4 separate regions of the Homo sapiens genome follow, and regions 2, 3 and 4 are each reported to be linked to region 1. The links are microRNA targets in miRTarBase. Many come from high-throughput screens and were not tested one by one. Region 1 holds a microRNA gene; each other region holds the end of a gene's coding sequence.
What was found. The annotated mature microRNA hsa-let-7c-3p reads CUGUACAACCUUCUAGCUUUCC and lies in region 1 at 2,792-2,813, opposite strand. An mRNA with a match to its seed (bases 2 to 7 or 8) in the 3' UTR can be bound and repressed. Matches are read on the target gene's strand: a 7mer-m8 pairs with bases 2 to 8, a 7mer-A1 pairs with bases 2 to 7 and ends in A, and an 8mer does both.

Region 1 (5,076 bases):
GCCCTCTATATGAACAATCTTTCGCTTTGATTTCTTAGACATAATTTAACTATTTTTAATTACTGACATCAGCAGTGGTCCTATATCTTGGTTTCTCAAAAAATCCTATCAATTTCTATATCTGACATTTGCCATTTATTTATAAACCTGTAGCAAGTTACATAGCCCTCATACCTGGAGTAGCAAAATTTATTATGAATCAAAGGCAAACATACAATTCTTCCACGTAGTGTTCTTGTCCTACAGAGAAGTTTTAAAAATTTTCTTCATTGGTACTAACTATATCCTCCACCTTGCAGGTTTTTTTCTGTCTTATTGTTTTGTTTGTTTTGTGTTGTTGAGAACGGAGTCTCATTCTGTCGCCCAGGCTGCAGTGCAATGGCATGATCTAGGCTCACTGCAACCTCCGCTTCCCGAGTTCAAGTTATTCTCCTGCCCCAGCCTCCCAAGTAGCTGCGATTACAGGTGTGTGCCACCATGCCCAGTTAATTTTGTATTTTTAGTAGAGATGGGGTTTCACCATTTTGGTCAGGCTGATCTCGAACTCCTGACCTCAAGTGATCCACCTGCCTCAGACTCCCAAAGTGCTGGGATTACAGGCATGAGCCACCACACCTGGTCAGATTTTTTCTTATGATTTCTACATAACTAACATAATGAATCATAGAGACATCTTCACCATTCTTCAATTATTCTTCTATTATACTCATTCACTTTAGGTGATAGTATATAAAAGAGGCTGTAATTCTAACAATTCATTATAGTACTTTTGTAAGATTATCCTTAAACTGCACATCTTACTTGACCTCTGTGAGGCACTTAACTCCATTACACTGTAAGGAAATAGACATTTATTGGCAATCATATTCTATTTGGCCCATCAATAGATTTGGCTTCTAAATAAATACACCTAGTATTGGGAGATACATACATAGAAACACATAGGAAAGGGATCCTAGGCTCTCAAGGAAAAAACTATTTATAAAGATACAATTGTTTACCCATTTAGTTGTCCCTTTCTTTCATCCGTGGGTTGAACTGCCATCATTAGACACAATGGTGTTCCTATTTGCTATGAGTCACTTTCCTTTTCATCTCTTCATGTCTTTTTGTTTGTTTGTTTTAGGTCTATGTCTACTGCCTCTTATTCATTGCTTCTTGATTAGTCCTTGCAAATATTTTTCTTTCACAGAGAGAAAGAGTCTTTACTACTGTAGACCAATCAAATTATTTTGCTTGAAGTGACTGGTATTCACTTTCTAAGGCTCACATGTTCTACGTGTTGGGGGTAGCCATTCCTTCTTCACTACATTGTTAGCAAGTTCTAGGTATTAAGATATTTTGGATGCCTGAGCATTCTAGAAAGGTCAGCACCACATAGCCAGTATCTTGAGGTCCTTAATATATATTTGCATCTAAACGTCTCTTTAATGAATTCCATGTTTCATATTTGGAGTCTTAAATTAAAGTTCTAACATCAACAACTACTTAATCCTGTGTCTGAAAGATGATCTATGTAAGATAGCCTCACTACACAAATTACACCACTAACAGCTGCTAAAGTTGACAGCAAACTAAGGTTCCAAAGAGTCCCATTTGCTTTGTAACACAAAGAATATTATAAAGTGCCTTTCCTTTAAACAAAAATGTGTTCACATTCTCAAATTATACTTTATATACATATTTATTATTAATTTATTGACATGTTTCTGGTTTAGTTGCTTCTGGTTTATTCAACAGATATAGCTGTACAAAAATAAAGGGCAGGAGACGAGGGAAATACACAAAAGACACAAATCTAATTTTTAAAAATCATATTGTTAAATGAGACTTAAAATAGAATATTTAGTTGAAATTGATGCTAAAAGAAAAACGATTCATCTGGAAAGAAAGGTATTTAAATTCAACAGAAATATGAATTATCTAAGTGTAGGATCATAAACTGTCATGAACTAATTAGTAAAAATGAATTTACTCTATTATTTTTATTCTAGATAAAAAGTACTTCTAAATTTTAACTTATCTGTTTAGAATGAATGAACACATTCAACACAGTCAAAAATCGACACATGTATTACTGATGCGGAGCAGTCCAGGAATTAAATTTAAACAGTTTTAGGAGCAATAAATAAAACTCAGATGTTTGACCACTGCCATAACTCATTCAAATATTCAATAGAAACTCATCACAGAGTGAGGTCTTACACTCCATTCACTAATCCAATAAATAGTTAGTGCTCATTATGAGTAAGGCATTGGAGGGGATACAGTGAAAAATAAAACATGGACTTTGCCCTCAAGGGGCTTACAGTCTAGTGCGGAAAAAATCAGCAAGCACATAAATAGCCATAACATAAGGTAGAAAGTGATGTGTCATAAGGAAAACGCAAATAATGTGCTATGGGAGCTATTAACTCTAGCAGACATTTTTTATTATAGTGTCTAAGCAGCCAATATAAATAGACCAATGATCCATTTGAAAATTAAGGTCTGAATTTTGTTAATCTATAGATGATAAAAAGCTTTAATATTAATGCAATTTAAGTCACTACCTACAATTTTCTTAAAATGTTTGAACATGGAGTGACAACCCATTAGAAATACCATTTTGACATTGTTCATAAGCAGATACAAATGGAATAATCTAATAGGGCTGAAATGATCATTTTAATGTAATAAAGGCCCAAATCAATGATCCAAGATACTCATGACACATTACCTTCTTGCACACAAATTGGCTCAATCAGGTTAAAGTGATGAAGAATTCCTCGACGGCTCAAGTGTGCTCCAAGGAAAGCTAGAAGGTTGTACAGTTAACTCCCAGGGTGTAACTCTAAACCATACAACCTACTACCTCAACCCGGATGCACACAGCTTCCAATGTTGCTTCAAACTCCTTATCATATCTTCAGTCAGCTCCTCCAAATATGGCAGCCATACACCTAAGGGCTTGGCAAGGATATAGATATAATATTCTAACATTTTACCAGTAAACTTTGCTGCTAACTGTTTCTCATAGGACTAACCTAAACACTTGGGTTTCCAGCATAGGTCACGTAAAATGTCTTCTGACCATCTAACCTGCCATAGTTCTAGTCGCAATTAATAGTAAAAGTCAATTGCATTCAGCCTCATTTTTTCAGGAGAAATAGGCTCAATAAAAACATATAAATCCAATGGTAGTCTTTAATTTTCTTACTGAAGTTGAAGAGGTACACTAAGCACTACAGTATGCACTGAAGTTTCTGAACAGAATCTATTCAGATCCTGGTCCAAACCCTGCTATAAAGGTTCAACTTTCTTATGCAATTTACTGTACATGGAATCGAACTTGAATGGGTGTGATATAAACGCTTCCAAGTTGTTGAGAATTGAAGCCTGCCTTGTAAGACAGACAATGATTAAAATAAACATTAAAAACAAAGGAAAATATAATGACTTCAAAAGTATATAATCAACTGGAGTTTAACAGGATTTTACTGAACTATTGTTGAACGGCACTGTGTATAGCATTTTGTCAGATTACCACACTGACACAGACCCATAGAAGCGAGCTTGTGCGGTCCACTTCACCACAAGATCGGATCTACGGGTTTATGCCAATGGGCAACATCTTGCATGGGCCCCCTATTAATATAGAATTTGTTGTAAATATCTGATGCAATTAAGAGTCAAAAATAATATTGATCCTTTAGTATAAATGTTTTAAATGCTGAGTTCTAAGGATGCATATTCTCCATTAAAGGCCTTCATAAATATTCAAAACTAAATACAAATTTATATGCATGAGAATTTAAAAAGTAGTTTATTGAAAAATTTTTCACGAACTGCTTTTGTTTCAATAGTAAATATTTTGGAATTAAACTATTCTAATTGAGTTTTAAAAGAAAAAAGAATCCATACATGCATGTATGAATTATATAATTGTGAGGCATGAATGTAGTATTACGAGCCTATAATTAAAACCAAATTAACTATTAAGTTAATTGTGTATGAGTTAGACCGTGCTTATTTTAATTTTTATAAAACTAGTTTAGTTACTGGTTTCAAGGAATTGGTAACATTATAACTTTCTCATAAAACAGTAAGATCTTGTTCACTAGCTAGAGAATACAGGAAGTTATTATCAGCCTTAAATATATACATCTGTGTCTATAGTCGGAATGGTGCTAAAATTTACAATATTTGGATGAGTTAATATAAAACTAAACTAAATGGCACGATAATGGCATGATTACTAATACTCCACACTAACATTTATACTCCAGATGTATTACATGACATAGGATATCTTCTTTCCTAAATAAAATATATTTAAACTTATTGTTCAAAAAAGATACACTTAAAATGCATGGCTACATACAACTCTCATCTGGTCAACAGGTTGGGCAAAAATAAAATATTACTAAAAAATGTTTTAAACCACCAGACAACAAGCAAACACACAAACGAGTAAACATAAAGCCAGCCACATACACGTTTTTTTAAGATTGTAAACTCAACTGCAACAAAATGATAAGTTGTACAATCATTAATCATTTCACATCTATAATCACTTAGCATTTCCTAATTATATCTTTATTGTGTAAAATAATACTACATACTAATTGCTTAGTGATTTTGCATATTTTGAAATAAATACGTTTTATAGCCTTTATATAGATCATGTGTTCTACATAATTTTAAACCATTATTTATTCTTAAATTGTCCTCATAATTATTAAAAACTATAGTAAATAATCAACAATCATACATTCAGTTGTAGTAAAAATATTTCAACATATATTTATAAATGCAAATGTGAAATAAGAGGCAGCATTGGGTTTAGTTTTACCATAACTATAAGAAAGCATGTTTTGGTTTCATTGTCTTATCAGGTCATGTAAAAAAGATGAAAAAGCATGACCTTATTCCCCTCCTCCTGATTTCACTTCCTTTTATATGGTACAACAAATAAGAAAATATAATTTTTTTCTTTTCCTATAAAGCTTTCTAGTAAACCGTATTGCACCTATCTTAAGCGTATGGATACACAGACATATATTCAATGGGACACAAACTGCCCAATTGACCACA
Region 2 (5,076 bases), not on the chromosome of region 1:
ATTTTATATATCAATAAGAGTAAAGACACGGGTACAAATTAAGAGTTATATGGTTTTACAAGTATATGTTAACCCCTTGGCGCTGGCGGTCACGGTGCGTCTCATTGCCGGCAATGGAAGTGTGCCGGGAAATCCCAACTCCCGGCGTCAAGGGATTAAAAGCAATAAAAACAATAATTTCACTAAAATTCTTTTGTGTAACACTTGGTCTTTTTTCCCCCCTCCCAATGTTTTAGTCATTGAGAAGGTCAAAACGAAATTCAGACTCTACGGAGTTGGCAGCACAGATGAATGAAAGTGTTGACGTCATGGATGTCATCGCTATTTGCTGTCCAAAGTACAAAGATCGACCACAAATTGCAAGAGTAGTGCAGAAAACCAGCAGTGGCTTCAGTGTTCAGTGGATGGCAGGCTCCTACAGTGGCTCCTGGACTGAGGCTAAGCGCCGTGATGGCCGCAAACTGGTGCCTTGGGTAGACACTATTAAAGAGTCAGACATTATTTACAAAAAAATTGCTCTAACGAGTGCTAATAAGCTGACTAATAAAGTTGTTCAGACTTTACGATCCCTGTATGCCGCCAAGGATGGGACTTCCAGCTAATGAATTTGTACATGCAGCCAAATTTACAGGAATTTTTTTAAAAGGCAGAAAAACTTGAAATACCAACATTCTGGCAAAAAAAAATCAGTTTTATGAAGAGTAAGTGGAACCTGGGATGCAGGAACAAAAGAAGGAAATGTTGGGCAAACATTTTTGTGGGAGCTCCCTTCGCTGTTGTGCAGCAGAAACAGATTCTCAGTTCATTTTTACTCCCACTGTATTATAGTTTAACAAAAATTGTTTATATCTTGGAAAAAAAACTTTCTGTTTAAAAAAAATAAACAAGTGAATGTTGGAAATTAGTCTGTTAATGTTCTTAATAAAGTGTTCTTGGAGTTTAACCTAGCAGCGGATGGCTTTCTTTAGCTTAGCCCAGTTTCCAGGGAAGCATTGTTTTTTCCAGGCTGTAAAATGGCAGAATCTCCTGGATATATAATTTATTCTGTTGAAAAAAAAAAAAGCATGCAGTATCTATGACCTATCTGCAGAAGGAGTTTTTGTAAATGTAGATTTTGATGTATTAGGTCACCCTGAAAACAATACAAGAAAAGGGATCCCCAGGTAATCTGGTGGAGCGAATACTGCAATAAATTTTTTTACTTCTCTTTGTTACTTGTCTGTTTCCATTTGAATTTCTTATTGTAAAAATCTGTTTAAATCCATTTATATTATTTTACAGTCTTTTATGTAAAATTTATTATATCACTGGTTTTCAAAGCAAAACATAAAATATTGTTTATACAGTTTGTATAGGCTGACTTCTGAATAATTGGTATCTATTATTTTCATTCCCATAAGAGGGTGTAAACAATTAACTCCAGGGTTTTATTGTATCCTGCAATATTTAGTATTAACTATATATGATTTAGCACTGTGCCAAACACATTTTCAAGAGTACATTTTGATATAAAAAGAAACTATAGTTTATTCCTTGTATGCTTCAATTTCTTTCTAGTGATGTCATGATGCTGATATTTATTCTTTAAACCTCGGGTAAAGGTAACCTGTTATTTGGAAAACCAGCATTTCTCTTGGTTAAAATGATGTCCGGTTATTTTAGAACTAGAGTTGAGATGAATATGACACTTCATAATTACACTCACTACATTTTTCACAAATTATTTTTTAATGCTGAAAAGAGTAATTTTACTTGTTGAGATGTTTATTCATTTTCTAATCTATGCTAAAAGCTTTTATCATAAGTCTTGGGAACAGTTGTCATTTACACATTACTTACTGCAGATATCTTGACTAAATCAGGAGGGAGGTGTTTAATCATTTGATATGTATAGTTGACACTCAGGAATAGTAATGCCTAAAATTTACAGTGGATGAGGTCTGTTTCAAGTTTAATTCTTTTTAAAAATGTTTTACTTATTTTTAAATCACTTTGAAAAAATTGACCTCCAGAATGCTGTTTTATGAAATTGGCAAATAAATGAAGGTATTCAATTTTTGAGGAAGAATGACATTGCCACAAAATACCTTTTTGTGACACCTATTAAACCACTATGAAAATAACTTTTCAGGATCTATTTCCTATGTGGAATTCTTTCAAATGCTTTCTTCACGGAAATGTTTTCTCACTCTTCGTTTTGTTCCCCTTACTTACATGTTTCTCTTTTCCTTATACTGTGAACTCTGGAACAAAACTAGATTGGGTTGGTTGGTTGGTTGGTTGGTTCTTCTTGGAGTTTATGTATATCAACAAAGGATTTGAGGTCACTTCTGAGAATAATATATCAAAAAGGGTACTGGTTAGAGAAAATATAAGAATAAAATCCAGCCCAGAGAGAGTACTAAGAATGTAAATGTGAGTAAAAAGCCAGTTTTGAATTCTATTTACGTGACAGTGATGCATGCTGTCATTTAATTCTCACAAAAACTCTCGTTATATATTTTATCCTCATTTTGTAGATGAGGATAGCAGGCTTAGAAGGATTTGGTAATTTACTAATGTCATGATAGGGATTTAAATCTGGAATTGAAGTAATTGTGTCTCACTACTCTAAGCTAATTGAACATCAGACATTAAGAGAGATGATCCTTATTGAAGTAAACCAGTTCCTAAAGGATCCTTGTAGTATACATACTTGGGAATCCTGTTCAGAGTAATTTTTAGGAAGTAGGTACACAGTAGTAAGTCTTCTGTTGCCTCAGTTGGCCATAGATGGAATTCTGTGTTTGCCACTCATTAGAAATTTAGGAATTTTAGGCAGGGCACGGTGGCTCACACCTGTAATCCCAGCACTTTGGGAGGCCGAGGCGGGCAGATCACCTGAAGTCAGGAGTTCAAGACCAGCCTGACCAACATGGGGAAACCCCGTCTCTACTAAAAATACAAAATTAGCCGGGCGTGGTGGTGCATACCTGTAATCCCAGCTACTCGAGAGGCTGAGGCAGGAGAATCGCTTGAACCCAGGAGGCGGAGGTTGCGGTGAGCCGAGATCACGCCATAGCACTCCAGCCTGGGCAACAAGAGCGAAACTCCATCTCAAAAAAGAAAAAGAAATTTAGGAATTTTAGGAATCAGTTTTGAAATTTTGTATATATTCTAAGCTCCTATTTTATCTGTTAATAGAAGCCAAATGTTAATATAAGCCTTAACTCTTAAATATACAAACCAAAATTTTCAGAAAGTTGAAGATTCTTCAAGATGAATTGTTAGGTCTTAACACTATTAAAGCTTTGGCAGTCAAATATACAAAATCAAACTTTAAGTATATTGGGGATTCACAAAGTTCTATTAAGTATTTAGAAAGTTCAGTCTTACTCTATAGTGTGTTGATTAATTACCATAGATTAATCTTGTTATATTGACTTGAAAAGATAGGTTATATTTGATATAAAAATTTTCAAGTATCTCTTCACTTTTTAAGTACATTAATATGAAATTTTAGCCTTATTGAAATTGTTTATTAAGAAAGAATGGCTAGTTTTAAAAATATGTTCATACCAAAATACACATGGCAGAAAATTCAGTGATCTCTAGAATTTTCTAGATGTAGTAATCTCTAATGGAAGAAATGCTGAGTTTTTTGAGAGAAATATATAGCTTACTCTGTTGATAGGTTGAGTATTTGAATTATTCAGGTAACTGAAGCACACAGGTGATTTTTATGACCATAGTCTGTCTCATGAAAACAGGTAAGTCAAACTGATGTTTGTTCAATACAGATTTCATGATCAGCAAGCAAATTTACCGTATTTTTATTTAGAAATAAATTAACCAGGGAAGTATGTGGTTCTCCCTCCCCTACCCACCACTTTTAGTTGCACAGAAAAATTCATCCTTGTCACTACCTGTGTCCAGGTGGTCTGCATCTTCAGAACTGTGGATATGGATAATTGGAATAAGATTACTTTTGCAAATATAAAACTCATCAGATTACCCACTTGAAATAATGTAATTTGAAACACTTGATAGTAATTTTTGCCCCATAAAAATCCTACGTGTTTGAACCTTTTGCTGTTTGCCTTGCTCATTTTAAAACCAAAGTTTGTTTAGTCCTATAGCTAATGTTTGTCATAGGCAGCATTTGTTACAAAATGATTTTACTAATTTTTCACTTGAATTTTTTTCTGAAATACAGTCTGTCCTATTGGTGCTAGCCGAGAAACAATTACATGCAAATTTAGTGTAATAGAAAGTCACTGACCAAACAAATTCAGTTTGGTACTCTGTTGACTAAGTGGTCATAAAGTTCCTGTGTGTTTTGCATGATGATGTGAGTACCAAGCCACCCTTCGTTTTTAAGACCCCAATTGTATATGGCTTCACTGCTGAGAGTGGTACGGTGTACACAATTATTTTTCTTATAAGAATTTTGTAAATTATTTTTACTTTAAGAGAATCTCCATTTACCCATTCCTCTGTTTCAGTCATTCTGAATTTCTGACCAAATTTATTTGAGCTGTACTCCATGCACCCCTTTCCACTCTTTCTGAAACAAGTCTCAGGCATCATTTTATTTTATCCATAAATAGGTTATCTTTTTTTTTTTTTTTTTTTTTTTTTGAGACGGAGTCTTGCTCTGTCGTCCAGGCTGGAGTGCAGTGGCCCCATCTCAGCTCACTGCAAGCTCCGCCTCCCATGTTCACACCATTCTGCCTCAGCCTCCCGAGTAGCTGGGACTACAGGCGCCCGCCACCATGCCCGGCTAATTTTTTGTATTTTTAGTAGAGACGGGGTTTCACCATGTTAGCCAGGATGGTCTCAATCTCCTGACCTCACGATCTACCCACGTCAGCCTCCCAAAGTGCTGGGATTACAGGCGTGAGCCACCGTGCCCAGCCCCATAAATAGGTTATCTTTAAATATTCTTCCTTGATATCAAATATCCAGTAAGTGTTTAAATTTTTTATTTTCTCATAAATGTCATATTTTTTAGGTCCTTTCTGTAGGCTTTCTCATGTCTTTTTATTCCTTGCAAATTTCTTATATTGAAAACACAAGTATTTTTCCTTGGGTTCT
Region 3 (5,076 bases), not on the chromosome of region 1:
AAATACAGTGGAAAAATAGGGTATTCCTACCAAAGACCAAATTCCAGCATATAAAGGTAGTGTTTCAACTTTCGTCAAAAAAATACAACTTTCAGTATTTCCTAAACACAAAAGACAACTCAATCATTTTCTTATTCATTACAATTCTCATTCTTGCAAATATAATTCTAGAATTTATATACAGTACAAACTATTTTCAATTACATCATGCAGGCACAAATAAAAGGAAACAAGTTAGAATCATATCAAAGAAGAAAAAAGCATTAGGATTCTTAGATTAGAACTACACCTGATGCAAATCTTAAAAACAGATCTACAAATAAATCTACACAATTATGTGAAAGATTAATACTTTTTTTGTCTAAATTCAGCTGCAAGAGGAAGCCATTTTGTAAACCTAGAGAATGAATCCTGAGAAGGAAAAAGAAAATGTAAGGAAAAATGTAAGCCTTCTTTCAACTCAAATTTAGAAGAACTTAAGCCTGAAATGTGTAAAATTCATCTCCATATTAACAGATATAAAGTAAAAAGGTGGAAAGCAAAAGTCAACAATTTCCAAAAAATTATCCACACAGAGGCAGCTATGGTTGCTAGTCCCCTCCCCTTCGCTCAACAAGATTTTAAAATGTTAACCTTAAAAAGGAGGAGTACGTTTATTTGGTCCTTTCTTTGCCCTTCCCTCCACATTTCATCTCCCATTAGATATATGATATATTTTTAAACCATATGAACAAATGAACCTTGAAACGGGATTTTTTTTTTTTTTTTTTTTTTTTTGAGACAGAGTCTCACTCTGTCAGCCAGGCTTGAGTGTAGTGGTGCTATCTTGGCCCACTGCAACCTCTGCCTCCCAGGTTCAAAGGATTCTGCTGCCCCAGTCTCCCGAATACCTGGGATTACAGGTGTCCGCCACCATACCTGATTAATTTTTGTATTTTTGTGGAGACGGAGTTTCACCATGTTGGTCACACTGGTCTTGAACTCCTGACCTCAGGTGATCCACCCACCTCGGCCTCCCAAAGTGCTGGGATTACAGGCGTGAGCCACAGCGCCTGGCCTGAAACTGCATTTCTTATTAACAAATGCAATGCAGTCTCTACTATTTCTTTGCCGAAAATAACAATGAGTATGAAGAAAAAAAAGGGGAGTTAAAGCTTCTGTTTTTGGCACAGGATACAGTTAAGTTGTGCTACTGGCTCAGACTCTTCTTGGTTGAAGAGCATTCTCTCATCATCTGCAGAACTTTAGTGCAGTAACTGCTGAGTATTTGAAAGTCTAATCACCATTAAATCCAAAATGTAAGCCCCTAGGTAAGACTTTTAGAAAGATACATACTCTGTCACTGGTGGTTCCTGAACAAACGGATAGTATGTGGCTGCAGAGCTGGGGAAGACACATGCTTCTGAGGACTCTAACCATGCCACATTGAGCCCGGCAAATCTGGGGACAAATGGTTTGACATCTGCTGATAACTTGATGCCCTGAGGAAAAATATGAGGTTTTGGCCACAAACATTCAGAGATCAAGCAAATATAAACAAACAAAAAGACCCAAGAGGTGTTCCTAATAGCCCCAGAAATGTTCCCGATGTTGTTTAAAAACTTCTGCCTCGTAAAGACAAGAACCTGCTTGCTAACGATTTCTCCCCAATGCTTTTTTTTTTGTAGAAAAGGCAGTAGTTCAAACATTAAAAGTGAAAAATGACAACGAATTCAAGTGGAAATAAAACAACACAGATTATATAGTTTAGATCTTGGAATAAGGGTGTTTTTACCACAGATTCACTTAGAAATAATAGAACTGCACACAGTACAACTACTGCAGTCAAATACACGTGGACTGTTTAACTACAGCACCCAAAACACACTGCAGACGTTTATTTCCATTACATTTTCTTGAAAAAGTTGCACAAAAGCATATGCATTTTACTCATGAACCACTAAGTCTTGCTTTATTGAAATACCAAACCTTGCTTTGCTAGAAAATATTATCACCACGAGCCTTTGAAATTTCAATTCACTAAGATTTCTTTCTTTAGTTTTTAGTGACGTAGTAAGAGATTTACTTTCACCGAGAATTTTATGGGTCTAAAAATGATGCAAGCGATCGCCAGGGCTCCATCTAGTGGTAATGCTGAGTACGTAGAGCGGAGAATGACGTTCAGAAAAACGCAGGATCCTTTAAAACAATCTATCCGTTCCCAAGAGCGCGGGAAGCTCGCCAGAGTCCCCCCGCCCCGACTGCGGGGAGCGCCGGGCTGGGCCGCAGTCACTGCGCTGGGTGACATCGCACCACAGACGCGGCGCTAACTGTGGGCGGGGTCTGTAGCCGCTGACCGCCACCCCAAGGCGGACCCGAGGCGGGGCGCGAAGATCGCGGCCACCCGGTAGGGCGCTCCCGTGCCGTCACCAGCATCCGACCCACGCCCGCTGGACCAGCCCCGTCACCGCCCGGCCGAGCCCCCAGTGCGAGGCAGGCGGACGGACTGAGGCTGCCGAGAGAGCCCCCGTCGGCCCTTACCTCGCTTTCGGGCTCCCGCGGCCCCTCCGACGCCATGCCGCGAGGCGCGGAGGAGGCCGCGTCACGGAGGCCAGCAGCGGGCCGTCGGCTTGCCGGACAGACAAAGCGTTTCCGCCCCCGCAGGCGACGCCAGGAAGTGCGTCACAGCAAAGCGACAGAGCCCGCCCTTTCTTCCGGCCGGAAGTACGCGGCGGCGGCACTGGACCTGCGCGGGCAGCACGTGGAGGCAGTGGGGCGCTTGCGGAAAATGGGGACCCCCAGGAGTCCTCTGGGCTGGGGACCCACCGTAGCTTGCGGGAGTCTTGGATCTGCCTTTTAGTGCTGGGATATCGGAGATAGTCTCCACCAAGGCAGTAGCGACTATAAACAAGAGTTAGGCCGTGATTTACTTTTCTCCCCTGGGCCTCACGAGTCTAGCGTTAGGACGGGATGGGGTAGTCTGGAAAGGCCTCTCGCTGAGGTGACCTTTGAGCAGTCACCTGAAGAGAAAGATTTACTAATAAGGAAACTGAGGAGGCCGAGATTACTCTCACCCCCGCCACTGCATTTCCCTAAAATTTCCCCAAGATTGGTGACTTACAGGAATTGCATACCCTGTAGGTCCTACAAACCTGGAAAGCCTACAAGACTCTTGATGGTATCCTAAATTTCCAGAAACCTTAAGTTTGGAAGTAGCCACAGAAAATAATTTAAAAATCGCTCGGTTTCTTTCAAAAATTAAAAAAAGTGCTAAGATATGGTCAAGAGATGGAATAGTATAATTTTCACGAGAAAAAAAAAGTTCTACACAGAGCAAATTCGTTAAATATTGAGAGAAATGTATAAAGTGCGGCAGGGATAGGAGGTTGACCAAAAGTACAGGGAAGAATGCAGAGTGGATTTCAATAGATGGAGGAGGAACTTTCCTCTCACTCAAAGGCTTGGAGGAAAGTGCAAGTGGATTTAAGGAACAGAAAATGTCAGCAAAACAGGCTATTTGAGGAATGGGGATTAGGTTGAGGCAAATTGTAGGTTTCCTCTGTCCCTTGCACAGACGTTAACTCTACCATTGAATACGAAGTATTTCAAGCAAGTAAGGCAGGTGCAGCTCCAGTTTTTTCAGATTTCTGTCCTGGTGGGTCTCAGTTCACTACACAGCCTCTAGCAGAAGTGATCCTTAGGGTCTGGTCTGGCAGGAATTTATGCTGGAAGTTTAGGGGTAGCTGTCGCCTTCCTTTCAGCACTATTGGGTCTACCCGGAAGTGTAATGAAGTTTACTTGATTTTGTCATGTTTCTGTTGGTTACCCTGGACACAACCTATGGTAGTGGCAGTAGATTTTAGGATGCTGCTAATCACAACCTTCAAAATTTATTGCCCTCATGTGTAAAGACACCCTTTCTTAACCAATGGACCTGATGTATGCTGGCTGCTCATTTAAGATGTTTCTATAGCATAGCAATTAATTAGAATAACTCCAAAACACTTTCCTAGCAGCTAAAAAGGCAAAGGTGTTTTACAGTGTTTTTGAACTTTTAAAAATGTGGTGATACTTTATAGGAAACATTATCCCTACTTTGGAAATGTAGAAGAGGATAAAAAAGAGGTTTCTCCCAAGACCACCAGTGGCCAGTGAAGTAGCCCAGATAGTATTAATTTGGGCTTTCCTGTTCTAGACAATTCTCCAGGAATTCAAGAGGTAAAATCTACTTTGGCTTTAGTTTAAACATATCCCTGGTAATTAATTTCTTCATTAAGTGAATTAAATGGTATCCAGATCATACCGCACTATTTTAAACTCATTTAACATCATCTTTAAGGTAAGTTAACTTCCTCAGAGCTAAAACTATAACACTGAAATCAATTTCAATAGTCACAAATTTCAATAGTCACAAATTAAGAAAATATACCTCAAAAACTTGAAACAGTGATAAATGCAACATACAAACTTTATTGAACAAAAGTAAACTGTTTCAGTAAACTCAAACAGGCACTTAAGAGAAAAACTGACTGGAAGAACTTTTATCTTAAACATCTTACAGTAACCTACTTGCAGTTGCATTTAACTGAGCTCTGTTGCTGTGAAGAATACAGCTCATGCACAGGTATGGATGAAAGATTTGTACATTTCTCAAGTATTCACTGAATACTACCTTATATACACATATACATTAAATTTGAAAAAGATTTGACGATCCCCAGATAAACTTCATTTTTGTTGATCTTTTGGAAGAGGTCGTCTAAAGAGAAGAATATGTGGTTCTGTGGAAAGAAAATGTTTTGAATCATTTTAATATGATTTTCATATACTCAACAGAAATTCAAAAGTATTCTCAACTAAGCCAGAATAAAATAAACTAAGTCCACTATTAATTGGTTTGAGGTATCCAAAATGATTTTTTTTTCACAGTTACTGTCTACAGTAAATAGATTAAAAGTAAAAAGATTACCTCTTTATAGGGAAAAACACCTCCTTCAAATCACCTACAGGATCTCATACTAATGCTCATCCCCATAGATTCTGTTTCAATAGGTGGGGCACAGAAATCTACACTTAAGTTCTTCAGTTGCTTTTGTA
Region 4 (5,076 bases), not on the chromosome of region 1:
CAGTACTTCTGAGGAAAAACTTGTATCCTTGCCAGTTGAGTACTCATCTGATGACAAAATCTTTCAAACAGAAACAAAACAATATATGGACCAGCCCAAAGTTTATCAGTCGGAAGCCAAGACGATGTTACAGAATGTATCTGCTGAAGTATGTGTTCCAGTAACTCTGGTTCCAGTTCAGATGCCTGACACTCCGAGTGACCTAGTGCGTCATACTACCACACTCCCACCATCTTCTCATGAGATTCTGTCACCACAGCCACAGTCAACTGATTATCCACGAGCAGCGGATTTAGCTTTTCTGGAAAAATATACTCTTACTCCTCAACCTGCAAATATAGTTCACCCAGTTCGACCTGAACAAATGCTAGATCCTAGAGAACAATCTTATCTTGGAACATTACTGGGCCTTGATAGCACTACTGGTGTTCAAAATATTTCTACGAATGAGCATCATTCATGAGTAAATCTAAACATTCCACAGATTTTTGGATGGTTATATGCTAATGGTAGAGATGATAGCTTTTAAATTTGTGGGGCTGCTATTTTCTTGTTTTCTCTAGTTTCTCAAGTCCTCAGAACAGTTTCAAATCAAGAAAACTATGTGTCTCTGTTTACTGAACATGAATATTTGGACAAAATTTCTGGCATAATATTTGAAGTGCACATTTTTGTGATTTTTAAAGATTATTTAGTGCTAACTTTTAATGGTTTCTTAAATTTTTTGCAATTATTAGCTGCTGATATTATGGAAGTATTTTTTTTAATCATCAGTGGAAATTTTTATTCTTCTTTAGTCTCATTCCTCTCCTTCTTCTTCCTAGCCCTTCTTACAAACAAGTTTGAGGACCATGTAGCCTTTAAGAAGGAATTAAGAGTACACTGATAATTGCAACTGTTTCTTATCCTAAGATTCAATATTACGTTATACAAATTTTTAAAATTGAAATTAGGAATTTGAATTTACAAGAATGCCTTGGATATTTCTGTGTTGTCTTTCCATTCATACATAATTTTAGGTTATCATTATCCTTTGGACTTTTGATATACTCAAAGCCAGAAAGCTTAACTAATGTAAGATTAGCTATTATTTGTAGGACTGAAATAATAATCCAGATAATTGGTTTTTGCCTATACTTCAATTGTTATGAATAAGAAAGGCAAACATAGGTCTGGGCATTAAATTATACAAACTGAAAATGTGTTACAAGAAAAATATGAGAGTTTTAACTAGATGTTTTTCAAGGTAAGTTCACCTTTTGTACTTTACTATTTATTTCAGAAATGTTGACAATACAACATAGCATATGTCTTCATCTCACTAAGAAAAGAGCAGTTGTAACTCAATGAAATTTAATTAAACATGCTACTTTTGATTTCATTTACTTGGCTGATAGAAACTCTGGGAAACAGAACCTAGATATTTTGTGTTCAATTGTTAGAAAAGGTGCCAAACAGATTATGAAATTTGTGCCTAATTTAACTTAACATTGTTTAATTAAATGGAACCACTACTTATATACAGATTTACATGCAATCCAGATCTTTAATTTTGCCTTCACAAAAGCCTAATGTCTGTAATTAACCTTTAATTTTTATTTCTGTATGAGACAAAAGTTGAGGACTTGGTGAAAGGAAATAGCAGTTACAGCAAAACCTCAGTGATTACAATTGAGGAAAAAGTCAAAATTATAAAATACCTTTAAAGACATGCACTTTCCATATTTTCAAGTCAATTTTAACTAAAAACTAAGATAATGTTTCCTAGTAGAGTTGCTTGAAGATTAGACTAGACAGGGTTGATTTATTATTAGCATGTCATTTGTACATAAACTAGTAGAAAATAGCAGTTTTAAAAGTTTTCTATTTCAGTTTTGTTTACACTCCTAATTGCTTTAAGCACTTTTTTTGTGTGTGTAAACTGTAAAGTCTAGCCCAGCCCTTGTGAAAAAAAAAATCACAAATAAAACAGTGAAGTTTTAATGAATAAAGTTTAATCAATTAGTAATGGCGGAAACTGTCGCTGAAGCACTTAAGAAATAAAGGTACTTTACAGCAACATTCGCCATACTAGCGGAGGTAAAACAAAAGAAATATTGAAAACTGAGGCAGTTAACCAAAGTAGCTCATATAAATAATAAAACCAATCTGAGTTTAGCCTCATTTGTCAAGGTTTGGTTGTAATTGTCTTAAGACTAGTGGACATACTTACTATGTTCTCCTTTTTAAAGTATTCTTATTTCTTTGTGTGGAAATGTTATATCTGGGGTACTTACATGATTGAGGTTGACTATATGAGGTACTGTTAGTCTGTTAGTCTTTCAAATTGACTTTTAAAAATACATATCTTTATGATTTTCATCATAAAGACTGGCAATATTATAACTAAAAATCTTACTATAATGAAAGAAATCATACATAAAAATGTAGCCTGCCTTACATATAAGCTAATGTAGAAAAGTTTAGACTTATAAAAAGGCAGATAGTATATATATATTTATATACATGTATGTATATGGTATATTATACATTTGGTGGCAGAAAAAGAAGATACTGCATTTTCACATTGAAAAGAATACTTTGATTTTTGAAGGTATTTACTTTAGGGTTCTTTTAATAATAATGTCCGTCCTAATGCTTTAAATATATGATTTAATTGTAGGAATTGGTTTACACAGAACTTTTTTGGAATACATCTCTTAGTAAAGTGAAATATAATAATATAATTGTATTTAGTTACTATTGTAGATAACTTAAACTTGAGTAGTGATTTACTGTTTTATAAAATGCTTTCATATATGTTATCTCATTTGAACCTCATAACCAGCCCTGAAATAGTAAAAACAAGCTATATTCCCACTTTATAAAGAATTTGAGGTTAAGATAAAAGGACTCATTTAAGCTCACATGGTCAGTAGGTGGCAGAGCTACTAGTAGGGAAAGAAGAAAGCTAGCATTAATGAATGCTTACTATGTGCCAGGTACTACATCCTGTCATTTAATCTTAACCTAGTCTGGGAGATGCGTAATATAATTCTGGTGAAGTAATAGTTTCAGTGGATGATTGAAAACAACAACAACAAAAACAAAATGAAACTAATCTGCTGCCTCTAATTTCCAAAAATGTAAGAAATTTTACAATTGTGAAAACCTCATGGATTTGGGCAAACTGAATGTATATAGGCTTTTGACAAAAGTTGGCACAAAAAGTATAAAAGGAGGCCTATTCTTTTCAGTTGACCTTTTGTAATATTTGATTTAGAGTATTTTGGACAAATGCTCTATAACTCTAATCCATTTATTTTGTAACTGTACTTAAAATTTTGAATCTTGCAACTAAGTTTAGCCTCATTCAGAATTTTTTTATTTTGTGAGCATAATTTATTGTTTTAAATTAATTTTTTAGCAGATAGCAGTTAGCACTTAATCTGTAAATTGAATAATTTATCAAGTGCAGGAATGTGTTAATCTAATGGGTTTTGACTTAAATGCACCAAAGATTTTTAGTAGGTATTAAATAGTTTAAAAGACTTTAAATTCTTTCTTGCTTGAATAACTATTTGTCCAAAGAAGCACAGTTGAAGTCCTAGAATAATGGATTTTTTTAAAAAAAAAAAGTTGTTAGTTTGAATACTGAGATTGATTATTGTGTTTATATGTATAAAAATAGGAGCAAAAGAAAATACTCTGGGAATAGTCATACTGACAAACCAATTATAAGTGAGAATACTGTTTTCCTTAGTTTAATTAATACAATGTTATGTTTTTTAGAGAACACTACTAAATGCTAAATAAGCCTATTTTTTACACTACACTATCAAAATAATTTTTGCCTTCGAATTTTTTTAAGTCAAGTTGAGGTTATTTTTGTAAGAAACCCAACCTATTTTTTTTGCAGCCTAAAATCCCATTTAAGGTTAGGGGTTGGTCCTTATGCCAGCAAGATTTAACCAACTGTAAAGATAGTAGTCTTTGCATACATTTAAGTAATTAAGGCATTTATTGCTGGGAGAATAGGAGTAGCAAAAATATGGTTTTAAATTGGTGCTTTATTAGGTGACTTCCTTTTAGGCGATGGCAGGTCATGAAATAGGTACACTAATAATTTTCTATCAACCTTAAAAAGTGTCAAAGCATCTTTGTAGGGTGACTCTAAACTGCTAATTAAGGGTTAATAAGTAATTATCATTGGTTGCTTTTCAATATAATTGCAAACAAATTAAAAACACAGTTAAACTAATATGTTTATAAGCTTGAGTTTTCTTCCTACCATATCACTCTCATATATCAGTGATGAAATGTCAGATTTTGAGCAGTAGCTCTTTGACAGTGTCCTTTTATACCCAGTCTTTTCTGCATTGAATGCTTTGTGCCTTTTCGATGTGTTGTAGTTGCTTAGAGTTGATTCTGCTGGCTAGATTGTACTGATTAATAGATTTTTATTTTTATTTTTTTTTGGTTATGGGTGTTATGATTGTGTTGCCTGCTGGTTGGGCAACTTTTTTTTTTTAGGTTGCTTTATGTTTATATAGGCAAATTGGCACTAAGTGTTAGTGTGAATATTTGTTTTTATGATTTATATATCATTTTAAAAATCTCTGTTGTGGCCTTTATAGTTACTGTGAAGCCACTCTTGGGCCTGTCTCTATATGCTTATTAGAGGAATCTGACAAGTAAAATAAAATGAGTAGTGTGTCTGCATCTGTGTCTCTGTTTCTCTGTCTTTTAAATAACCAGTAACCATAACTACACAGCCCTGCACTGAATGACCTTATTTCAGTTTGCCTAAAACTGAACAAGAGGTGATGGTTTGAGATGAGTTTCTCATTAGGAGCAGCAACATCCCAACCAATATATAATGAGTTGATCAACTCAGGAAAAATTAGGACTTTAAAGAAGGTTGTATTTGGATATTCTAAGATTCAGTGCCAAATTTAAAATGCCTAGAAATGTATTCTACAAGTAGCATTTCTAAAACTTTAAGTAGTGTTATAGTAAATGCTACTTGCTGTTAGAGTGAATAATGGATAATGTGAGAATAATTTTCTAAACGACTTCTAGAAACTAGACAGTTCT

Region 2: the mRNA of NIPBL is a reported target of hsa-let-7c-3p. Seed matches in the 3' UTR shown: 7mer-m8 at 608-614.
Region 3: miRTarBase lists CKS2 as a target of hsa-let-7c-3p. Seed matches in the 3' UTR shown: 7mer-A1 at 4,619-4,625.
Region 4: miRTarBase lists ZBTB41 as a target of hsa-let-7c-3p. Seed matches in the 3' UTR shown: 7mer-m8 at 1,823-1,829.

Annotation. Positions count from the first base shown.
Region 1 is chr21:16,537,620-16,542,695 of GRCh38, reverse strand. It overlaps MIRLET7C (microRNA let-7c), which reads right to left and starts at 2,868; the gene lies at 2,785-2,868. The region is part of intron 6 of MIR99AHG (mir-99a-let-7c cluster host gene); the gene reads right to left. It overlaps MIR99A (microRNA 99a), which reads right to left and starts at 3,607; the gene lies at 3,527-3,607.
Region 2 is chr5:37,064,291-37,069,366 of GRCh38, forward strand. NIPBL (NIPBL cohesin loading factor) reads left to right here. Exons shown (of 47, transcript NM_133433.4): 47 at 237-2,123. The coding sequence ends at 602. Among named protein-coding and RNA genes, the nearest start is that of CPLANE1-AS1, 180 kb to the right of the region's middle.
Region 3 is chr9:89,316,057-89,321,132 of GRCh38, reverse strand. It overlaps CKS2 (CDC28 protein kinase regulatory subunit 2), which reads right to left. Exons shown (of 3, transcript NM_001827.3): 3 at 4,430-4,760. The coding sequence ends at 4,708. It overlaps SECISBP2 (SECIS binding protein 2), which reads right to left and starts at 2,633. Exons shown (of 17, transcript NM_024077.5): 1 at 2,521-2,633; 2 at 1,336-1,481. The coding sequence starts at 2,556. RefSeq lists a silencer at 2,274-2,593 and an enhancer at 2,764-2,983.
Region 4 is chr1:197,154,746-197,159,821 of GRCh38, reverse strand. It overlaps ZBTB41 (zinc finger and BTB domain containing 41), which reads left to right. Exons shown (of 11, transcript NM_194314.3): 11 at 1-5,076. The coding sequence ends at 463. Among named protein-coding and RNA genes, the nearest start is that of ASPM, 11 kb to the right of the region's middle.